Regions from separate parts of the Homo sapiens genome. Here region 2 is linked to region 1. Evidence: fine-mapped expression QTL. A gene starts in region 1. The other region holds a variant in brackets. All regions are shown on one strand. Distances are between the middles of the regions. Region 1 holds the start of ATP10B (ATPase phospholipid transporting 10B (putative)). Region 2 holds the start of MIR3142HG (MIR3142 host gene).

Region 1 (12,702 bases):
TAAGTACTCAGTTAATGTTAGATGTTCTGGCTACTTCCAATATTACCTCTTCGATTAATTCTCAGGACAATCTTGTGAGGTAGAAACATTTTATCCTCAGTTTATAGATAAGGAGACTGGAGCTCAAAGAGAGTAATTTGAACTGTTGTCTGCATGATTGCAAGCACATTCTCTCTGTCTTACATGCTAATTTTCAGTTCAGTGCCTGTTAAATCAAGTCTAATAGTTCCTGGGGCATTTCATCAGAATTGCCAATATTTGAGTGTATCTAGCTTCTGGGATTCTATAATAGTCAGTTATGTAAAAGACAATGCAAGCTATTTTATCGTCTAAGGAAGAGAAGCAAGTTTCGCCATTTCTCTGTTTTTAGGTCTCCAGATTCACAAGCATATTGTAAGCAATAAATAAGCTGATAACAGCTTCTGATTTTATAACAGTACAGCCTTGCGGTGACCCCTTATGTATTGCTGCTACTTCCCAAAGAACCCCCAAACCTCAGTTAGAACTGTCCCCTGGATTACTGAGAGGGAAAACTCCATGTGGCACCTGCTAACAAGAACCTGTGCTGTTAAACTTGGTTAGTGTTTTATACAAGACCAAAGAAACACTGTCTTCTCTTTTTCTCCTTAAACAGAATAAGTAGTCGAGAAATTCCTTTGAGAAGCAACAAGATTTGATTGAATTTTTCAGAATTTCTTATTATTGTGTCAAGTTCACTTGACAGCAAAGGACAAACTGCCTTTCAAATGCTATAAATGAATGCATCAGCAATTCAGAAGGAAAAACGCGGGTTATTAAGTAGGAACAAGTCTCTCTGAATATATTTACACCAGCTCATGGAAACCATTGTCCTCAGAAACCTCTGCAAAAATCTATTTTCTAGTGTCGGTATTGCTTTAAGTTTGACAGATGATGGTAAAATACAATGAAATTACCTTTGAGCTCTGATATGTATATCAGCGCCCACATCTCTCACAATTTGATTTTTTATTTTTCCAACACAGCCATCTATTTTCAATATTATCCCTGCACACTCCAGGTTTATGCCTGGGGAAAATAACTATTTATGCCTAAGTCATACTTATATGCAGAATTTACACTATATGTAAACATACACACATACAATACACATGTGTAAATACATATTAGTTAAGAGCTGGAAGGAACCTTTCAGATCTTCAAGTCTTTACTGTCACATTACAAATGAAGAATCTGAAGCCCCAACAGAAATGCTATTGAGAAGGCCACACAGAAACCTGACTTCAAAGTGAGATTTGAGAGAATAAGGATGTAGCAAGTTCCTACTATGTTCTGAGGGTTACAGGAGGCATATTCCATTCATAAGTTCTTATACCATTTCTATGATGTTGGTATCACTCCCATTTGATAGATGAGAAAATTGAGGCTTACAAAAGTAGCACAGCTAAGAAAATAGCACAGCTAATAAATGGCACAAATGAAATTAAAGCACTGATGTAACTAGGTTCTTTCTAGCATACCAGCATTTCTCTAAATACATTCACTGCCATATCACTGACATAATTTTGCTAATCCACGTGCCAACTGTATTTTAACTTTTTTGATTAATTAATGTAAACATTTATAAAGGAAAAGTTTATCACCATTTAAATAGCATGCCATAAAGAGAAGAAAACTATTGCTGAGTTTTAGCTGGACCCTGCTGCTACCTAAAGACATCAAAATTGCATCCAGCTCTCTTTGTTGAAATGGGAGATTAGCAATGGGTAGAGAGGTATTAAAGGTCTAGTCATACCAAAATGAGACTTAATGATGGAAAGAGAGTTGAGAGGGAAAACTTTTACTATGTGATCTAGCTATTTGATATAATACGTGAGTATCACCTAAAGTCATCTTTGTCCTACCTAAGATCATTTTTGGTTCTATCATGGTACCTGTTCTTCACTTTGAGAAACACTGCAGTACATATAGTAACTGGGCATGTTCTCCAGGTCATGGTTCTGGAACTCCATCAGAATCACCTGAAGGCCTATTTAAAACAGATTTCTGAGTGATCCCGAGTTTCTGACTCAGCATGTCTGCGGCAGGGCCTGAGGTTTTGCCCTTCTAATAGTTCCCGAGTAATTCTGATACAGCCGGCCCAGGAAGCATATTTGGGAACCACTGCTCTAGGTTGTACTTGGGGAGGAGGAGGTAGAGAACATACGGTAGCATGTGTGTGAAGATTTCACCATCAATCTTGCTTGTGAGTGGAGGGATCTGGAATTTTTAATTAAGCAGATGAGGCAAAGAAACAATGTATTCTTGTGTTCCTGTGTCACTTCTTCAACTTAATGAGTTCAGATTGATACTGCACCATACCAGAGCGACCTGCAAAAACTTTATCTAAGAGACAAAAGTACCTCCTCTCAAATAATACAAGTTGTTTTCAGGCTGCTAACTATCTGCAAGGCTCCCTGCATTGGCAACAGCAGCCAGTGATCACTAATAACGAAAGCAGAAAATGAGATTCTCCTTCTTTTCTCCAGACGTTTAAGACAGTACTTAATAAACAAAAAATGCCATATCCATTAATATTCTTTCTCATCTGGTTCTCTTAGTAGTAACTAGCAATTATTAAGTGCCTTCTGTGGGCCAATTATTGAATTGTACTGGCAATTACACACACACACACACACACACACTCTTTTAATGTGAGCATTTGACAGGCGCAGTAACTTGCCAAGGTTACACAATTATAGGAAGCAGAACTGTAATTCATATGCAAGTTTTATTCCAAAGCCCGTTTTTTTTCTACTAAACAATACCCACTCCTATTCTGACTACCCAACTTCATCTCTTAATAAAAGGGTATTTTATAAAAAATGAAAAGAAGAAAAGGCTCCAGAAACTTAAACTTTGTAGTTAAAAGAATTGTAAAACAATGTCACCAGAAAATGAGAAATCAGTGACATTTAATCAGCAGAAAAGCTAGAACTCCCTAGGTTCAAAGCAAAATTTAAGAATGCCTGGCTAAGTTTTACTTTAAGGAGAGTGGGTAAATGGGTAGAATCAGTCTCAGGAATCCAACGAGTTTTAGTTTACTTTTGAGTCACAAAAGAAATTTTCATTCCCTTCTGACATGGCAGAAGCTGTTTGAAGAATGAAAGTGGTAGTAGAAGCAACACTGGGCCAGGTGCGGTGCTTACGCTTGTAATCCCAGCACTTTGGGAGGCTGTGGGCGGATCACCTGAGGTCAGGAGTTCGAGACCAGCCTGGCCAACATGGTGAAACTCCGTCTCTACTAAAAAACAAAAAACAAAAAACAAAACAAAAATTAGCCAGGCATGGTGGTGCATGCCTGTAATCCTAGCTACTTGGGAGGCTGAGATGGGAGAATTGCTTGAATCCAGGAGGCAGAGGTTGCATTGAGCTGAGATTGCGCCACTGCACGCCAGCCTGGGTGACAGAGCAAGACTCCATCTCAAAACAAAACAAAATAAACAAGAAGAAGCAACACTGGATTGAGAGCTCTGAGCCTTGGACTCTGGTGTCCTTTTCTCTCAGTAATTCAGACTTCATTTCTCTAGGTCCTAGTTTTATCATCTGTAAACTAGGCAGCTAGACTAAGTTCCATTCCATTCCTCAGAGCTCCGTTCCTTTGAAAGGCAGCCTCCTTCACTGGACTTATCAGTATCACATGCTTCAAAAGATAAGGCTCATCGTTTAGCACGAGAGGAGTATGATTTAACTGTAAAAAGTCAGCATGTGGGTTTCAACCTTCAGTTTCTCAAGAGCCTATTAATCCACCCATATGTGATGTTATACTGCTATACTCTTTAAAAAATACATGATGAAAACCTGAGGAGAGATCCTGAACCCTTAAATCCATATAATTAGGCTGTAAGAAATGAATTTTCCAAGAATTTTTTAAAAAGTCATCAATGGATGAAATGACAAACTCAGTGGGTGTTATTAAGAGTAATTATAGTAACATCTAGACAGAAAACAACATCTGTGATCTGCCTGATTAATGGCTTAATGTAACTGTATGTCTGTTAATGGAATAATACTCCAAGCAGTCTTGACTGTACATTTGCAAGATCTGGAAACAGAGAAGAAACTGTGGAAGAAGGAAGTAGCAGAGTGCCAGATTGGCTTTGGGAGGTCAAGCTCCTCTCTACAGTTTTCAAATTCTCCTCTGCCTACCTGGCAAATTCAGAGAAAATTGCCTGGCAAATTCAGAGAAAAACCAAGTTCCACCAGACACAGGCATGCACTCCTGTAGGCAAAATAACTAGCAGCTCAGTATAATTTTTATTTTTAACATTACTTTTCACCTTAGGGTTAGGGATAGTGTCACTCCAGCCTTAATAGCAGGCCACAGGACTGTCCTAAATGTATTCATCACAGACCTGCATGCATGGGGCTTTTTTATTTTTTTTCTGGAAGGAGTAACTCATACTTAGGGAAAAAACACATTTTTCTTTAAGCAACAGTTTTCTCCTTTGAACTCAAAGGAAAGTCAAGCTTCCCACCTATAGTTGAAAACTACTGCAATATGGCAGCTTCAGAGTTTATCAAGATGAAATTGGGAAGCCATGTAATGATCTCATTCTCTTCCTCAAAGCTATAGTTTCTTTCTGCTTTGAGAAGAAGGCTGTAACTCCATCTGCTTCCTCAGGCTGCACTGGATGAATGCAGGATAGCAGGATATATTATTTATCATAAAATGTATTCAGGCACATTCAGACTGCAAGCCCTGTTGAGTGAGGAAGTAGCATTTGCCATCAGCTTATCATAATGAAATCAATTGACGAAAAATAAAACATTCTGTTAGAAAAGAAATGTGGATCTCGCACCCAGAAAGCCAAATGAAATTTCAAATGCAGTGTAAAGAAAAGTAGTCATATCCTGGGCCTAATTCAGAACTTAGACTTGATGATTCTAAGAGGCAATTACTCCCCCATTATATAGGTTAAGGCCAGGATGCTTTTACTTACCCCAGCAAAGCTGACGTCCCTATTGAGCAGACTCCAGTAGAAGAAAACAGTGCTTGAAAGTGGCGGTATTTCTCTCGCACACCTTGGCTAAAATAGTTCTCTTTCCTATGGAATTTTTCATTTTTCTGATTATATCTGATTATGTCAAGGCAAGGCCTCAAGCTAACACTCCCTCAGAAACTTAGAGAAGATGACACACTGAAAAGAAATAACTGTGACCAATGAAAGAAAAAGGAAAAATAAGCTGCCTCGCTAGGCCCAAGAGTGAAAGAGAAGAATAGCAAGTCTGTGAATGTGAGGCCGAGTCCCAGAACAGTGAAGGCAGTGTTCTTCGACTTGGCTGAACATTTACATTGTTAGACATGGTTCTTGCATAAATTTCTACTTCCTGTGAATCAATGAGCCAGCAATATCAAAATTCATGGTGATTTTTATTCTCTACGCATGGTACAAAATGACTTTGTCCATCTACCTTTGGTAATGCATGTAATTAAGTGTGAGACAATTATAACCTTGCAGTTCTCTTTGGGGGGCCTGAAATATGATTCAGCTGCTGGGTTTCAAGGGCACTTAAGAAAGAAAAGACTCTCTACAGTGACTTTTATATGCATGCTGATGATGAATTTGCCCTCAAAGCTTCAGAAGTCTCATTTTGCAGTAGTCATAGTTTTTATTGATTACTGTTTGATTATACAAAATAAGGAAAGTGGGACCAATATATTATAGTGGCAGATTATGTGAATGGTGCAAACTTACAGAAAATCAGAATTAGTAATGGGCTTATTGATAGCTTCGATTCATACCCTAAAATGAGATTTTCATGTATAATCCTTTTATTAAGTTACCTACAACTCAACTAATTGGCATAAATGTCATGAGCAAGTTGCTGTATTGATGGATAATTATTGATGGGTCCATAAATAAAAGAGAAGGTAGAATGAGCAGTAAGTTGATTTTAAGGGTAGTAAAAAAAAGAAATATTACCAAACTTAGGAATAAAAGGTGTTGGAAAGAAGTGAACATACTAACTTCATGAAAATCTTTACATAAGATTTTGGTTGGTTGGTAGAGTAATTGTGAACTTTGTATGTACCTACAGATCTTATCAGAATACCAAGAAGAAACATGGACATAGGAAACATTTTACAAGAGAAGAAACACCCACACCATCTAAAATCTGCATCGCTGTGTGTGTAAGACACAAGCTAGGAATTTTTAAGAACATGAAATTTGCCTATGCTTTAGACAGTCTAGAATTTTTAAAAGAGCGAGTTGGCATTTCAAAATTCTCCATCTGCTAAAGAGAAGAATGCTTAAGTCCCTGTTCCTTTACTTCCCTTCACTCAGAGTGCTCTGGCTTCTAGGGACGAGTGTGGTCTAGAATCACAGATACGGTTAAATTGCAGAATATTGCACTAGTGGGTAACTGGAGGTTATTTAGTGAAGCCCCCTTGTGCCATGGAGGAGAATGCTGAAGCTCAGAGAAGTGAATACAATTGCTCAAAGCCAAACAGGAATTTGGTGGTGAACATGGGACCTCAAACCACATTGTCTTTCTCCTAAGACTAGTATATTTTCCATCACTGGTCTTTCTCCTAAGACCAGCTCTTTCCCATTATCACTTTCCTGGTAAAGAGAGAGGCACATGCAATTTAGGAACAAATGTGTCTGTAGCATCCCTTGGGTTTTCATGCTAACCAATGAATAGAGAGTCCTCAAATATGTTCATTTTCCAAACTGCCTGGAAATCGTAAATACTAACAGACATATGGCAAATTATTTATAAAATGTGTTGAAATTAAGTGACACTGTCTGGCTAATTAGAACCCTAATAAACAAATAATAGATAAGAAATGCTATGTTCAGTTTTTATTAGAGGGACTATCTTTCTTTTGTTTGGCTGCTGGAATTTTGTAATAAATCATATTTTAAAAATCACACTCACAGAGTTTTACTTATAGTTCCTATTTCCAGCAGGCAATCTTTCTACACTAAGGCAATTTAGCATTTTTGTATGTATTTGCATTTCTTATTGACCACATCATGCTTTTCATTCCTGATTTTTACACAGTGTGTCATGTCTAGCTTTTGTATTCTTGCTGCCCAAACTAGTCAATTAAAGAAGCAATGGTAGACAGAGGCTTTTGCTCCCATCCCCGACACCAGTACCACACAACCAGGATGGATTTCATAATCTTAAGACTATCTTCTACAAGCTGTGCAAGTGTTATTAGTGGTAATTTTTATTTTTTATTATACTTTAAAGTTCTGGGATACACATGCAGAACATGCAGGTTACATAGGTATACACGTGCCATGGTGGTTTGCTGCACCCATCAACCCGTCACCTACATTTGGCATTTCTCCTAATGCTATCCCTTCCCCTAGCCCCCCAACCCCTGACAGGCCCCAGTGTGTGATGTTTCTTCCCTGTGTCCATGTGTTCTCATTGTTCAACTCCCACTTATGAGAACATGTGGTGTTTGGTTTTCTGTTCCTGTGTTAGTTTGCTAAAAATGATGGCTTCCAGCTTCATCCATGTCCCTGCAAAGGACATGAACTCATCCTTTTTTATGGCTGCATAGTATTCCATGGTGTGTATGTGCTACATTTTCTTTATCCAGTCTATCATTGATGGGCATTTAGGTTGGTTCCAAGTCTTTGCTATTGTGAACAGTGCTGTAATAAACATACCTGTGCATGTGTCTTTATAGTAGAATGACTTATAGGGTATATACCCAGTAATGGGATTGCTGGGTCAAATTGTATTTATGGTTCTAGATCCTTGAAGAATCTCCGCACTGTCTTCTACAATGGTTGAACTAATTTACACTCCCTATTGGTGCTAATTTTTACTGAGTACTTTGTGCCAGCACCATGTTAAGTGCTCTACATACTTTGACTCATTTAATTCCCTCAAAAACTTTAATAGATTGACGCAATTATTCTTATTCTACGAGAGAGAAAATGTAGGAAAAGGAATAAAATAACTGTGCTTTCACATAACTAGGAAGTATCTGGGACTCAAACTACAGATTGTTTAACCATTCACCTTTGAAGGACATCTGAGTTATTTCCAGCTCTGTTATAAAGTTGCTATAAACATTTGTGCACAGGTTTTGTGTGAATAGAAGTATTTTTCTAGAATAAATGCACAGACAGAAGTTTAATTCCTGGATTGTATGGTATGTTTAGTATTTTAATAAATGCTTGTTTAGTATTTTAATCCTAGATGTATTTGCACGTTTAGTATTTTAAGAAACTGCGATATTCTTCCAGAGTGACTATACCATTTTACTTTCTTACCAGAAATGTGTGAGGGCCCTAGTTTCTCCGCATCCTCACCAGCATTTGGTGTTGTCACTACTCTTTAGTTATTTCAATAGGTGTATAGCAATATCTCATTTTGGTTTTAATTTGCATTTTCCTAATGGATAATGATGTTGAGTATCTTTTTATGTGCTTATTTCTCAGTTATATATTTTGTTTGGTGAAATATTTCTTAATGTCTTTTGCTTATGTTTTAATTAATTTTTGTTTGTTTTTTTTTTAGTTTTGAGTGTTCTTTATATACTATACCTTTGTCGGATATGTGGTTGGGAAATGTTTTCTTTCAATCCATAACTTATCTTTTTATCCCCTTCACAGGGTATTACACAGATCAAAAGGTTTATTTACATCAATTTTTAAAGCAATATTGAATCAATTTTCCTTTTCACTCTTTGCATACTTCTAAATCTTAAATATTTATCCTATTTCTCTAAAAATTTTATAATTTTATGAATTACATTTAAGTCTATGATCCATTTTGAGTTAAATTTTGTGTAAACTGTAATGTTAAGATCAAGGTTTCCTTGTGTGTTTATTTGGATTTTCAATTGTACTAGAACCACTTGTTTTATGACTGTCCTTCCTCCATTGAATTGTTCTTGTAACTTTGTAAAAAAAAAAATTAGTTGCATATTTGTGTGGATCTATTTCTGGATTCTGGATTCTTCTCCATTGTTTATACCCCTGCCAGTACCAGTCTTGATGACTATAATCATATAAATCTTAAAATCAGGTAGATAGATTCCTTCCACTTTATTTTTTTTCAAAATTGTTTTAACTATTCTTGGTTTCATGCTTTTTCATATAAATTGTATAATAATCTTGTCTGTACCTAGAAAAAACTTTTTGGATTTTGATAGTGATTGTATTAAATTCATATACTAATTTGGGAAAAATGGACATCTTTACTATTTGAATAGTCCAATCAATGGACATAGTGTGTCTCTTCATCTATGTAGGTCCTCTTTCATTTATGTTATCAACATCGTGTAGTTTTTAGCATATGAGTCCTGTACACATTTTGCTTGCTGCACATATGTTCTGGCTGGTATACCAAAATAGAATAAATTTCTGTATGTTTATCTTGTATTCTGCAATTTTGGTGACTTGCTCATTAGTTCTAGGAGTATATTGTAGATTCCTTGGATTTTCTACAAAGACAATCATGTCACCTGCAAATAGAAACGGTATTATTTCTTCCTTTCTAATATGTATGCCTATTATTTTATTTTCTTGCCTTATTGCACTCACTGAAACTTTTAAGGCTATGTTGAATAAAAGTGATGAGAGTGAACATCATTGTCTTGTTCTCAGTCTCAGGGGGAAAATATTAAGTCTGTCACTAATAAGTATAATGTTAGCTGTATATTGTATGTAGATGATTTGAGTTGTATGTAGATGATTTGTATGTAGATTTGTATGTAGATGATTTGAGTTGAGGGAGTTCTCTTGTATTTCTATTTTACTGAGATATTTTTTATCGTGAATGGATTTTGAATTAGTTTTTTCCTGCATTAATTCCATTTGAATTTAATTAATGCATTAATTGATATGATCATGTAATTTTTCTGCTTTAGCTAGTTAATGTGGTCTATTACATTAATTGATTTTCAGATCTTGACCTAGCTTTGCATACCTGAAATAGACTCCATTTGGCCATCATGTATAATTTTTTAATTGATGAATTTTGTTTTCTAATATTTTGTTAATAACTTTTGCATTTATATTCATGAAGGCTTTGGGTCTATAATTTTTTATACTGTTTTTCCTGGTTTTGATATCAGGGTAATACCAGCTTCATAAAACAATTTGAGATATAACCTATTCTACTTTATCTTCTGGAAAATATTTACAGAATTTGAATTAATTTTTCTTTAAACAAATTGTAGGATTCCCCAGTGAAATCATCTGGGTCTGGAAATGTCTTTTTTGGAAGTTTTAAAATAACAAATTCAGTTTCCTTAACAGATATAGAGCTATTGGAAGTATCTATTTTGCATTCAGTGAGTTTTGGTAGTTTGTATTTTTTTTTTTAAGGAATTGGTCCATTTTGTCTAGAGTTGTCTATATTATTTTCTTATTATCCCTTGATTCTGCTGTGTCAGTGGTGATATCCATTTCATTTTTGATATCGGTAATTTTTGTCTATTCTCTTGTCAGTCTTGCTGGAGGTCTATTAATTCTATTTGTTGATCTTTTAAAAGAACCAGCTCTTTGCTTTGTTGATTTTCTTGTTTTCAATTTTAGGGATTTCTGTTTTTTAATTTATTTCCTTGTGTTTGCTTTGGGATATTTTTATCTTCTTTTTCTATATTTCTGAGATGGAAGCTTAGATTATTAGAGAAAATTTTCTCTTTTCTAGCATAGGCATTTAGTGATATAAATTTCTCTCTTGGCATTGCTTTAGCTGTGTCCCATTAATTTTACTGTGTTGTATTTTAAATTTTTGTTCAGTTCAATGTATTTTTCCCTTGAGATTTGCTGTTTTATTCATGAGCTATTTAGATGTGTATAGTTTAATTTTCAAGTGTTTTCAGATTTCTTTTATCTTTCTATAACTAATTTCTAGTTGGATTTCATTATGGTCAGAGAATGCACTCTGTACAATTTTAATTATTTTAAATTTGTCGACATTCATTTTGTGGCTCAGAATATATTATTTCCTGGTATTTGTTTGATGGCACTTAAAGAGAATGAATATTCTACTTTTCTTGGGGGAGAAGTATTCTACAATTGTCTATTAATCTGTTTTATTTGATGTAAAATTTTTATATTCGATTTTTTATTTTTTAAAAATCAATTGAGAGTGGGGTATTGTGGAATTGTCCATTTTTCCTCCTTTCAGTCATATTGGTTTTTGTTTTACATGCTTTGTGACTATGTTGTTTGGTGCATACATATTTAAAATTGTGTCTCCCTGGTGGATTGAGCTTTTGACCATTATATAATGTCTCTGTCTCTGGTAATTTTCTTTGTTCTGAAGTTTACTTTGTCTGATATTAATATAGGTACTTTTGTTTTCCTTGGATTAATGTCTCCATAATATATCTTTTTCCATCCTTTTATTTTTAATCTGCTTATATTGCTGTATTTGAAGTCAGTTTCTCGTAGAAAGCATGTAACTGATCATTTTAAAATCTACTTTGTCTATCTTTTTTTTAAAATAAATTTTGAATTTTGTTTCTCAAGTCACTGGTATGTAAACTGTGTTCCTTGGAGTCCCAGATATTTTCCACCTGCCAGTGGGTCTGTAACTGGAGGAAAAAGGCAGGCTGCATGGTGAGGTTCCAGGCCCCAAACCCCATGTTTTAATTGGCATAATCACTTGCATATAATGTGATTATTAATATGTTAGGGACTAAGATTACCATTTTGTCTTTTTCTTGTTTTCTTTTTCTTACCTTCCTGTGGTTGTTTGAACAGTTTTTTAGAATTCCATTTTCAGCTTTTGCATTTTTGAGTATATCTCTTTGTATAGCTTTTTGAATGATTTAGATATTGTATTATATATACACAACTTATTACAATCTATAGTTTTATCATTTTACCAGTTTGAGTGACATATAAAAAATTTACTTCTTTTCTCCTTCCTAATTTATAATATAATTTTCATAAATATGTCCTCTACATATATTTAGAAGCAAATGAAACGTGTCATAATTTTTACTTCAATAGTGAAACATAATTTAGAAAGTTTAAGAAAAGCCTATTGCATTTAGCTATTTTTTTAAATTAACATGTTATATTTTCCTTTCTGATGTTCCAAGATTACTTATTTTGTCTTTCCTTTTTGTTTAGAGAACTTCTCTTAGCCTTCTTTTAAGATAAGTCTGCTGGCAACTAATTCCCTTGGTTTTCCTTCATTTGCAAATGTCTTTTATTTCCCCCTTTATTTTTTTGTTTGTTTTCACATATAGCATTGATCCCTTTTGTTTTTAAAGGATGTTTTTACTGGGTATAGAATTATGGATTGAAACTTCTCATATAGAACTTAAAAAATATTTTTGTACTTCCTTCTGGCCCCCATGATTTTTAATGAGAAATACTCTGTCATTTAAATTATTCTTCCTCTAAGGTAAGCCATTATTCTTTTTCTGGTTGGTTTCAATATTTTTTTCTTTGTCTTTGCCTTTCAGAAGTTTAATTATATCTTGGTGTAGATTTCTTTGAATTTATTCTGTTTGGGATTTCCTCACCTTCTTAAATCTGTAAATTCAAAGCACAGGCCCCCTCCCCATAATCCCCCTTCAAATGTCCTTTAAATTTTAGATAAGTCTGTTCTAATCCCAGTCTTCTGTATATCTAAAATACATCTTTTATCTTGCTCTTTGGCACTCTACTATTTATCTTCCAGGCACAGTAAAAAACAGAAAGCAAAAAGCTCAGAAATCTGGAATTTATTAACATCTAG
Region 2 (10,732 bases), 390 kb before region 1:
GAGGGTTTCTTCTGGAGACTCTTCACAAACCTCTGATTGTTTCTGTCTTATTGGCCTGAATTGGGTCTTGGGTCCTTTTCTGAAACAATCATCACTGTTTGGAAGAATGGTTTAAGCCAGTGGTCCTTAACCTTTTTGGCAGAAGGGACTAGTTTTGTGGAAGACAATTTTCCCATGGACCAGGGCAGGGGGATGGTTTCTGGGTGATTCAAGTGCATTACATTTATTGTGTACTTTATTTCTATTATTATTACATTGTAATATATAGTGAAATAATTATGCATCTCACCATAATGTAGAATCAGTGGGAGCCCTGAGCTTGTTTTCCTGCAACTAGACCGTCCCATCTGGGGGTGATGGAAGACAATGACAGATCATCAGGCATTAGATTCTCATAAGGAGGGTGCAACCTAGATCTCCTGCATGTGCAGTTCACAATAGGGTTCGCGCTTCTATGAGAATCTAATGCAGCTGCTGATCTGACAGGAGGTGGTACTCAGGCGGTAATAGGAGCAATGGGGAGCGGTTGTAAATACAGGTAAAACTTGGCTCATTTGCTCTCTGCTCACTTCCTCCTGTGCGACCTGGTTCCTAACAGGCTATAGACCCATACTGGTCTGTGGCCTAGGGGTTGAATCTGGAAAAGTATTAGGAAGGGAAATGGATGCTAGACAGCCAGTACATAATAACTGTCCACCAGAATAATCAACTGTTTATTTATGGACTACCTCCTACACGTCAGAATGGCTCTAAACATTTTACATGCAGCAACTCTTTTAATCCTAATAAAAGCCCTGTGAGGTACGAATATTTTTTTCTTTTTTCTTTTTCTTTTTTTCTTTTTTTTTTTTGTGATGGAGTCTTACTCTGTCGCCCAGGCTGGAGTGCAGTGATGTGATCTTGGCTCACTACAACCTCTGCCTCCTGGGTTCAAGTGATTCTCCTGCCTCAAACTCCCGAGTAGCTGGGATTACAGGCATCTGTCACCATGCCCAGCTAATTTTTGTATTTTTAGTAGAGATGGGGTTTCACCATGTTGGCCAGGCTAGTCTTGAACTTCTGACCTCAAGTGATCCAACCTCCTTGGCCTCCCAAAGTGCTGGGATTACAGGCATGAGCCACTGTCCCCAGCCTCCAATATTTTTTCTGTCCCCAGGTTGAGGCGACAGAGGCAGACAGAGACCAAGTAGGTGGCTCATTTGGCAAGCAGAAGTGAAGGGATGGCAGCCAAGCAGTCTGCATCCTCCAACCCTCTGGTCACAACACTGTGCCATGGTTTTTACCAGACTCAGGCTGGGAACCACAAGAAGTTCTGCTCTACGTAATCATTTCCCTAATACTATTTGCTGTAAACTGTATTTTCCCTTGAGATGCTTTTGAAAGAAGATGATGTTCCCATATTGCCCTAGATCATTCTACTTGGTTGAAAACTTTTGGGTAGTTTTTTTAATACTTTCATGCTTTTAGAATGCATGAGAAAGACAACCACTGTTTGCCTCAAATTACCCTTAAATGGCACTTATCTCTGCTCTATAAATATTTACTATCTGTTGGTGCATTGGATCTATGTTTCTAGTCTTTTGTCTGTAATGTTTTACTAGCAGCATGGCTAGTGTTGTTTTTCTTCACCCAGAGGTTTTGAAGAGGCAGAGTTTGTAGAGGGGGAAGCAGGTTGGGGGGAAGATGTCTATGAATCCCTGCTTTCTGATCTCCTTTCCTTCCCTTATATTTCCTCCTGCCTCTCTCTCTTCCTTTATCTATCTTTCAAACTAACAAATTCCCCCTTTTTATAAAAGTCTAATATGGTTAATTTTTTTTTTTTTTTGAGATGGAGTCTTGCTCTGTTGCCCAGGCTGGGGTGCCGTGGCACGATCTTGGCTCACTACAACCTCTGCCTCCTGGGTTCAAGTGATTCTCCTGCCTCAACCTCCCAAGTAGCTGGGATTACAGGCATGTGCCACCATGCCCAGCTAATTTTTGCATTTTTAGTAGAGACGTGGTTTTGCCATGTTGGCCAGGCTGGTCTTGAACTCCTGACTGAGTGATCTGCCCGCCTCGGCCTTCTAAAGTGCTGGGATTACAGGTGTGAGCCACTGCGGCTGGCTTTAATTTTTTTTTTTTTTTTTTTTTTTTTTTTTAATGTAGAAAGCACAGATGAGAAAAGGTAAGAAAGATCTCACATAGTCCCATCTTCCTCTTATCTTTTTGGTGTGCTGTTTTGCTTTTTGCACAGATACTAGATGACAACAACAAGCATTTCATAGCATTATTTTCCCTTTCAAAAGACAGCTAGAAGGTTTAAAAAAGTTAAGTATTCTTTAGCATCGTCATTTAAAATAGAGTAAATGTGCTTACGTTGCAGATGTGCCATAATTTAACCAATTCCCAGTTTGGGACAATTAAATTTGTTGCTAATATTTTGATGTTAAAACAGCTTTACTCATGAACATTTTTTGGCTAAATCCTTGCCCACGTTATCGGTGACTTCCTTAGTTTGCTGGGCAAGGATGTGTTCCCTTTGGTAAGTCATGCCTGCCTTTCCTCTGTTCACCTTCCAGGTATGGCAGTCTGCAATGTTAGTATGCACAGAAACTCATGGTGCCCTTGTGTGCCATCATCAGTACTCCAGCCCCTGTGGACTTCTGAAGGAGAGGATGCTGTGCTTCTCTTATAGGCCCAGTTCCTTTGTTTCCACATCTAGCTATGCAGAGATTTCCCATTTACACATTTTCAGTTTCAGGAGCAGAGTCTCAGGATGCAGGAACACAGCTGGTATCATTATTGTTTTTCTGCATATTGATAGTGGCAGCGTAATGTGATCCTTTTCCCTTGCGCAATGCTTTAGATAGCGCTCTGGATGTCCAGCTTGGGAAAAGGCCACATGAGACACACAACAAAGATATTTAGTAGGTGATCTCTTTGCTCTGTCATTTCCTGGGGCTGCTATGAATCATGTATTATGTTTGGCACTTTACTGGCTTTTAAAATAAATGTAATCTTTAATGCAACCTGTCAGGTATTTGTTACTTCTGATTTTATTAAAGAATGGCTTAGAGAATTCAAGTTAGTTTTTCTCAGCAAGAGTCTAAAGCCCAGCTTTTCGACGATTTCTTGTTGCCTTTACAGGTATTTAAACTGGTCAGAGAGATAAGTTCTGCACAAATGAAAATTCAAAAACATGGTATAAGGTATCTCTGCCAGACAGGCTTGTGCTCTGATGAAAGGAGGGAGAAAGTGTGGGCTGTGGCAGGCAGGAGGGTGTCTAATGATTATTATGCTTGATATGCAGCACCTTCGTGGGCCAAAGGGCATTTGGTTACATGAGAGTTTTCTTTGGATATAGGAAGTCCAGCAGGTTCACTTGAACCTGCAGGGACAAGGGAGAGCTGCATCCCGAGTCTGAGCCCCATCTAAACTGCAAGCCAGCTGATCAAGTACCAGCTCTAATCCTTACCCCAACAGCGGCTGTCTATTTGGGGAATTTCCTGAGTTTAAGAACCCCAAGCATCTGAGCTACCGAGTGGGCTGGAAACACAAACGTTGTCGTGACACTTGGGGGTATTTTTTTTATAATTGTATATGTCACAATTTCCTACTACCAGATCAAAGAGTCTGAGGGCCAAAGAATTCAGGTGGAGACTTCCCCACAGTACTCAGGGCATACCTGAGGGTCATCTTTCCAGTCTATATTTTTGTACTTTTGAGCCCACACTGTGACATTTAAGGTGAACAACAGCGAGATTCTCAAGTCCCCTGTATGTGCAACGTAAAACATGGAGCAAAAGCATCCCTTACACATGGGACCAGGTAAAACATAAGGGACTCTAGACACTGTGTGTCTGTGCTTTTCCAGGGCTCATGAAAAAAAAGTGGCTCCAAAATTCAAAAGGAAAACACAAAATTAAAGTGAGTAAATGTTTAATTTAATGGTTCCTCAAGATAACATCATAACACTGAATTGATTTATCAGCTTTAGCTCATATATCAACATCACCACGGAATTATGCAAATTGAGGACATGGTTCTGATATACGCATGTCTCAGTTAACACAGTACAGTAATCCCTTGGTATCCAAGGAGGATTGTTGCAGGACCCTCTCATGGATACCAAAGTTTATGGATGCTCGAGTCCCTTATATAAATGGTGTAGTACTGTGCTGTGCAGAATTGAGGACAGCCTATATGGGTGCATTTTGAAATATCTAATTCAATGGTGGAGACGGGGAGGGAGTGAGGTATTCAAAAGGAAGAGTGATGCTGCTTGGAATTAAAGTAAAAACAATGCAGGCCTCAAAAAGTCTTCATAACAACAATGAAGATTGCTTCCTGAGAGTAGACAACAGCTCCAACCCAGTAATTCAGTTAACTTTTGCATTTATGAGTACCTATGAGAAATGTAGCATAACACTTAGTTGGACTGGGACTCCAAACCAGATAAGACAGTGCTCTTGTCAGCAAAGAAGATTCACATTCCTTCCACACAATTCCTCTCTTTCCAGCAT[C/CT]TTTTTTTTTTTGAGATGGAGTCTCGCTGTGGTCACCCAGGCTGGAGTACAGTGGTGCTGTCTCGGCTCACTGCAACCTCCCCCTCCCAGGTTCAAGCGATTCTCCTGCCTCAGCCTCCTGAGTAGCTGGGATTACAGGCACCCACCACCACACCCGGCTAATTTTTATAATTTTAGTAGAGACGAGATTTCACCATATTGGCCAGGCTGGTCTCAAACTCCTGACCTCAGGTGATCCGCCTGCCTCGGCCTCCCAAAGTGCTGGGATTACAGGCGTGAGCCACCGTGCCAGGGCTTCTTTACTGACTTTTAACTCTAGGAATTTATTTAATTTCTGTGAGTGTCTGTCTTCTGGATTTTTGTCTGTGAAATAGAGACGAATACCCATCTTATCAGCATTAAGTGAGATAATGGTGGTAAAGTGCATAGCACTTTCCCTGGCATGTAATATAAGTTATATAAATGATGTTTAAGCTCTCCTCCACCCTACCCCCCAACAAAATGAAACAAAAATGACACGTATTTTGGTTGTAAAAGGATGAGGCTGAATTCATATATCATCCCTGAAAACCTGCCTCAAGATTTTAGAGTTTATTCCTCCCGAGGCAAAAGGCAGCAGATGGAGGTGCTTGCAGCTGATAGCATATAGCTACTTAAATTCTGGCTCCAAGCATCCACTTTCCTGTTTCTGGAAAACTATACTAATGACCCCCAGGTGTCACAAAGGAGCCCTTAGGAATGCCGAAGTCGAGTTAACTGACTGGAACGGGATAATGTACTTGTTAGCAGAAACCAGCAAGGGTTGAGTTCCTTCTGTTTATTCCATTTGAGTCTAGCCCCCAGTTCATGGATCCAAATAATTTTGGATTTCTTTAAACAGAATTGTCGCTAACTGAATTAGGCAGCTTTTAACCTTTTATAAAAACTTCACAAATAGGTTGCTTACTCCTTAATACAACATGGGATGTGTTAAGAGTGCCCTTAACTCTTCTGGTCACCCTTATGCTTCCTCCCTTCCATCAACCCACCCGGTTTCAGCAGATGCTGGAGTGCTTGAAGGTATGCCCAGAGCCCACTCAGATACCTGGGTCCACCCCAAACCCCCAAGGAACTCCCTTCCAATGGGAGAGAATCTCACACAAGGAAATAGTTTTGATGTGGACCCCTTGAGAGGCAGAGTAATGCAGTGTACCAGGTTCAGAGATTTGGGGACAGGAAACCTCAATTCAAATCCTGGCTCTGATATTTTCTAGCTATGTGAACTCTGGCAAGTTTCGACTCTCTTGGAACCTCGGTTTCCTCATTTCTAATCTAAGAATAGTATCTGCTTTTTAGGGTTCTTAGGAGTATTAAATAAGAACATGTTTTTATGAACAGTGTCTGGTGTATAACAATTGCTCAATAAATATTTGCTTTTAAAAACGTTATCTATAGTAGACGTTCAAACAAACCTTTTGGGAGCTCAGCAAGATAAGCAACAAAAACCTTCAGGGGAGGTCAGGAAAGTGACTACATCTGCCTGGAAGCAAAATCCTTTGAGCTGGTCTTTTTCGGTCCATGAGCACGTGACCAAGGAAAGGAAGCTATATTTTCTCGACTGGGAATTTGAATTTGCAGTTGCACATTCCAAAGGCCTTGTACGTTCTTTCCAGTTTGGGAAAAGGAGCAGCTAAGGGCACCCATGGAAACACTTACTAATTGTGTGACCTTAGGCAAGTCCCCCTAACCTCACCAAAGATAAAATTCCCTTATGAGTAAAAGGGGATCACAAAATGGAGATAATAATTCGGGCTACCTGCTATGGATGATTGCTGTGGGATTAGGGAAGATGATGCACGTGATACATTTAGCAGAGTGCCTGGTGCCTAGTAGGTGCCCATTAAAATTTAGCTATGACTGTTCTCTTTAGCTGACACACAAGACTGCCTTGAATGTTCACATTTCCAGAGAAAGGTGCTCAGGAAGATTTCTCAGTGTTCCGCCTGCCAGGTCAGTTTACAGTTCAAAGAATCCCTTTGTTCAAAGGGTGAGCAAATCCAGGCCTCGTGTATCTGCAGCAATGAAACAAGGGAGCTTTCTGCCTGATCTTCTCCCCAAAGGCAGTCTCTCTTTTTAAATGCCTGCACACATGTTATTTATTTATTTTTGGTTAACGTTTAAATTGAGGTTTTGGCTGAAACTCAGCCTGCGCGCACTTGAAAAGCCAACAGGCTCATTGGGCAGCCGATAAAGCTCTCGGGATTTCCCCGCGGGGCTGCGGAGAGTACAGACAGGAAGCCTGGGGACCCAGCGCCTGACCAGAACTTCCTCGGGGGAGGCTGCAGGGGAGCAGGCGCATCCTGCACAGAACGCTCTAGAGCGCGCAGGCCAAAGCACCAGGCTGCTCCTGACACGTGCTGCAAGAGGGTCCCCGACCCGGGGGTCCAGACCCTGCACGCATGATGGGGAAGGTGGAGGCTTCCCCCTCAGCTCCGCGGAGAGAAGCTGACACTGCCAGGCTGGAACCTTCCATTCCGGCCCAGCCTCTTCCTCCCTCGCTGTGCCGAGGAGGGATCTAGAAGGGACTTTCCAGAGAGGGTTAGCGTGCAGGGTGTGGAAATGGAATAAAAGCATATGCAAATAGGCCTTAGCTGCCTTCCTCTACCCCAGCAAATAAGAGTCTCTCCAGAAAGATGCTCTTTCTCCAAGACGCTTGACCGCTCTTCCTTTCCTGGATGGCACCAGCAGGGCCGATTGGAGTGGTAAACCCTGGGCCGGAAGGCATGCCAAAGGGTGGACAGGATGGACAGGAGACAGTAGCACAACGAGGAGGGGGAGAACAGCGGCTGAATTGGAAATGATAAAATAAAATGAAATTTTAGGAGCTCGCTGTGAGTATGAGCTGGGAAAAAATAATCATTGCAAGCTGATTTATTATGTACTTATCTTCTGTTTGAGAGGCAGCAGGCTTTTGTACAGTGGATTATTGCAGAGTAAATGGCACATTAAAGATATAATCAAGATGTTTAAGGCATATTGAAATGACATTAGAATCAAGTAGGTGAGACTTTTGTCATGGTCTAGAAATATAAAAATGTCAGTGACTTGGAGATATTTCCAGTGCTTTAGTAAAGATGTGGCTCCATTTTCAAAAGGGACATATTTTTAACCTTTTGTTATTTTCAGGGTGGGGGGGGATAGAGTGGGGTCAGGAAGTGGTTTAGAATCTCTATGGATGATAAAATAATATGCTTTAAACCTGGAGTTGTAGACTGTGGTCTCTATTTAGCAAGTCATAAACTTTCTTGCAGTGACAATAGCATGAAAATATTGGACAGTAAATATGGTGCTCTTAGGAGGTTTCAGGGTTGGAAGACTATGGCTATTACTTTTTGTTTATTGTGTTCCTATTCTCAATTTCAATCTTGTCTTTGGATAGTAAGAATTTTTTTTAAATTTTCTATTTTTTTAAAAAGAATCTTTTACATACTGAACCTGACTTGTATACTAATTGGCAAACAGTGTCACTTTTCTTTCTTGATGCCTCAATGGGTTTAATTATTGTATTACGGTATTTTCTTGTCATTTGAGACCTTCACATTCAGTGTCCTTTCTTTCTTTTTTTTCTTTTTCTTTTTGAGATGGAGTCTTGCTCCCGGCCTGTCGCCCGGGCTGGAGGGCAGTGGTAAGATCTCGGCTCACTGCAACCTCCGCCTCCTGGGTCCAAGCAATTCTTGTGCCTCAGCCTCGAGAGTAGCTGGGATTACAGATGCGCGCCACAATGCCTGGCTAATTTTTGTATTTTTAGTAGAGACAGGGTTTCGCCACGTTGGCCAGGCTGGTCTTGAACTCCTGACCTCAGGTGATCCGCCCGCTTCGGCCTCCCAAAGTGCAGTGTCCTTTATTTTATTTGTGTGCCCTGGTTCTGCTTTGATTTTGCCCCAAACCCTTCTGAGTGTAGCGCTTTACTGACACTTTATCCCCGTTATTAACAATGGGTTTTTGGACAGAACTGGCTTCTCTTTATTTGTTGTTTTTAAAATCATACTGCTGTCCTTATGCATGGTACTCCTTGGAACAGATAAGCAGCCATACAAGAAGCTCTTTGAGAGAGAGAAGGTGGACTCTGGGGGTCGTGCCGGTTGTTTGGAGTTGTTGGACTGTTAGCTTGTGGAGTGGGTGATGTTTCATCTTCAGGATTCTGTGAGGCCAGGCCTGGGATGCGGGGAGGAGCTGACTGGATGGCTCCTGGTGATGCATTCCTGGGCCCTCTTCTCATCTCTGAATTCCTAGAGTCCCACTTTCTCCAAAGGCCCTGCGGGAATCAGACGCATGCACTTCTTCAGTTCTGTGTAGTTTTAGGTTCTCAGTGGAGGCCTTTGGGCTCAACTTGTAGTAAATATTTGTTTTCTGTGGCTGTCAGCAATCTATAGTCTTGGGTGTGGTCCCTAAAAGCCAGCTTTTGGGCAATTTTTGAACTGCAATGGGGATTCCTCCTTCTGGTTGTTCTACAATCTGGCAAACATTTCTTATTTTGTTCTGGGCTTTAGTCTTATTTAATAACAAGAGAAAATCTTCTATTTTTAACAATAACATGAATTATTTTTATGACTTACACTTTGTAAAGCATTTTTGTCATTTCATGTAATTCTTTCATAAAATTTGTAAGGTTGGTAGAAACAGTAGAATTAGCACATAATGGGAACTTATTAAATATTTGTTAAATGAATGAATTAAATCCATTTGACTGCTAAGGAAATTGAAACTCAAAGAGATCAAGTGATTGATTTAAGGCTCCACTTTCCAGTAGGGACTCACATCTGATTTTTCCCATTCCAGACTGACTCTGATATAATATCTTACATACTATTTGTTACTCTTTCTCCAAGATCTTAGAAAGGTCTTTTGATTCTCTAAGAAAAGATAATAGGACAATGCAAATGCATGGATACACCATCAAAGGGGTGGCTGAGGGCTGTCTACCTCTTTGTATAGTTCTTTCCTAGGTTCCTGACTCCGCTAAAAACTCATATCCTTAAAGATATGACTATTTAGATACATTCCTTGTTGGAGATAAGAACACAAGTTCATTGCTGAATCATGGTGTATATATACAAAAAAAAGAGTGCACAAGTTCATGCTGAGAAAAATGACTATCTTGAATTTTTAATATTTTTTGGAAGTTTGAGCATAAAACTCTGCACATCTCAGGGGAAGTTAATTTCAGAGTTTTGGATGCGGAGCTGAGTATTTTCTCTAGCTTTGTCTCTTGGGGTACTGGAGGGAGTCATGCACTGCCTCCATTTTGGGGTAATCTTGGTGTGTAGCAATCAGCACTCATCTGGCCTACAGTCGTCATTATCAGCTGCCCCCACTGCTGGAGGAAATGTCACCCATATCAGTTCAGACATTAAAATAGTAAGAAAAGAGCCAGTTGTTCTAGCCAAACCCAGAATTAGGCTTAAGGTCGCCACTATGTACCAATAACATCCATCAGCTCGCCAGAGACTTCCTTCAACCGGGGACACCAGGAACAGAGAGAAGGAAGAAAAATTTCCCTGTTAAATCTAAAGCAAATTAGAGAGGGATGCCAAATGGGTGTTCCCCACAAGGGCCTTTCCCTTTGACTTCTGTAACTCGAGATTCAAAGTTTTGGCTCTGGATTATCTCCCAGAAGAAAGCTGCAAAAACAACTGTGGTTACTTCTTTACTAAACTGATCCTCTTTGCTGCTCCAGTGTGCAATTATATTGCCACACAGATAGTCTCAAACCTGTCAGTCTTTTTTGCAATTGTTTTTGTGTCTCATTGAGAAAGGACTTCCTCAAGTGAAGATTGTAAAGATTTATTTTTATATTTATCTTTGAAACTTCTATAGTTTTTATTGCCATCACATTGTTCATTTGCATTTAGTTCTGTCATCCATCTGAAGTATATTTTTGTGTATGATATAAGACAGATCTGATGTTAATGTTTTCCTCTTTAGGTACTAGTTTTTCCTCTACTTTTTTTAAAAACTAAAATTTTAGCATTAGGATCGTTTTAGACTTATAGAAGCATTGCATAGACAGCACAGAGAGTTCTCGTACACTCCGCTCTTCTGCTTTTTGATTTCTTCCTCTGCTTTGAAAGGACATTTTTACCTGGTCCTAAATTACAGCATGTACACAGATATCTTTCTAGAATCTCATTTTTATTCTATTGGTGATTTGCTATTTCTGCTCCAATGTCACATGTTTAATTATTATTTCT

What was found.
Region 2: its variant is fine-mapped to the expression of ATP10B in monocytes after R848 (Quach 2016, PIP 0.94).

The regions. Positions count from the first base shown.
Region 1 is chr5:160,846,980-160,859,681 of GRCh38, forward strand. ATP10B (ATPase phospholipid transporting 10B (putative)) reads right to left here and starts at 5,232. Exons shown (of 26, transcript NM_025153.3): 1 at 4,962-5,232.
Region 2 is chr5:160,461,069-160,471,800 of GRCh38, forward strand. It overlaps MIR3142HG (MIR3142 host gene), which reads left to right and starts at 7,183. Exons shown (of 2, transcript NR_132748.1): 1 at 7,183-7,372. RefSeq lists enhancers at 1,367-1,446, 6,127-6,763, 6,764-7,400, 6,868-7,097, 7,128-7,287. The variant C/CT (reference allele first, on the strand shown) is at 4,503.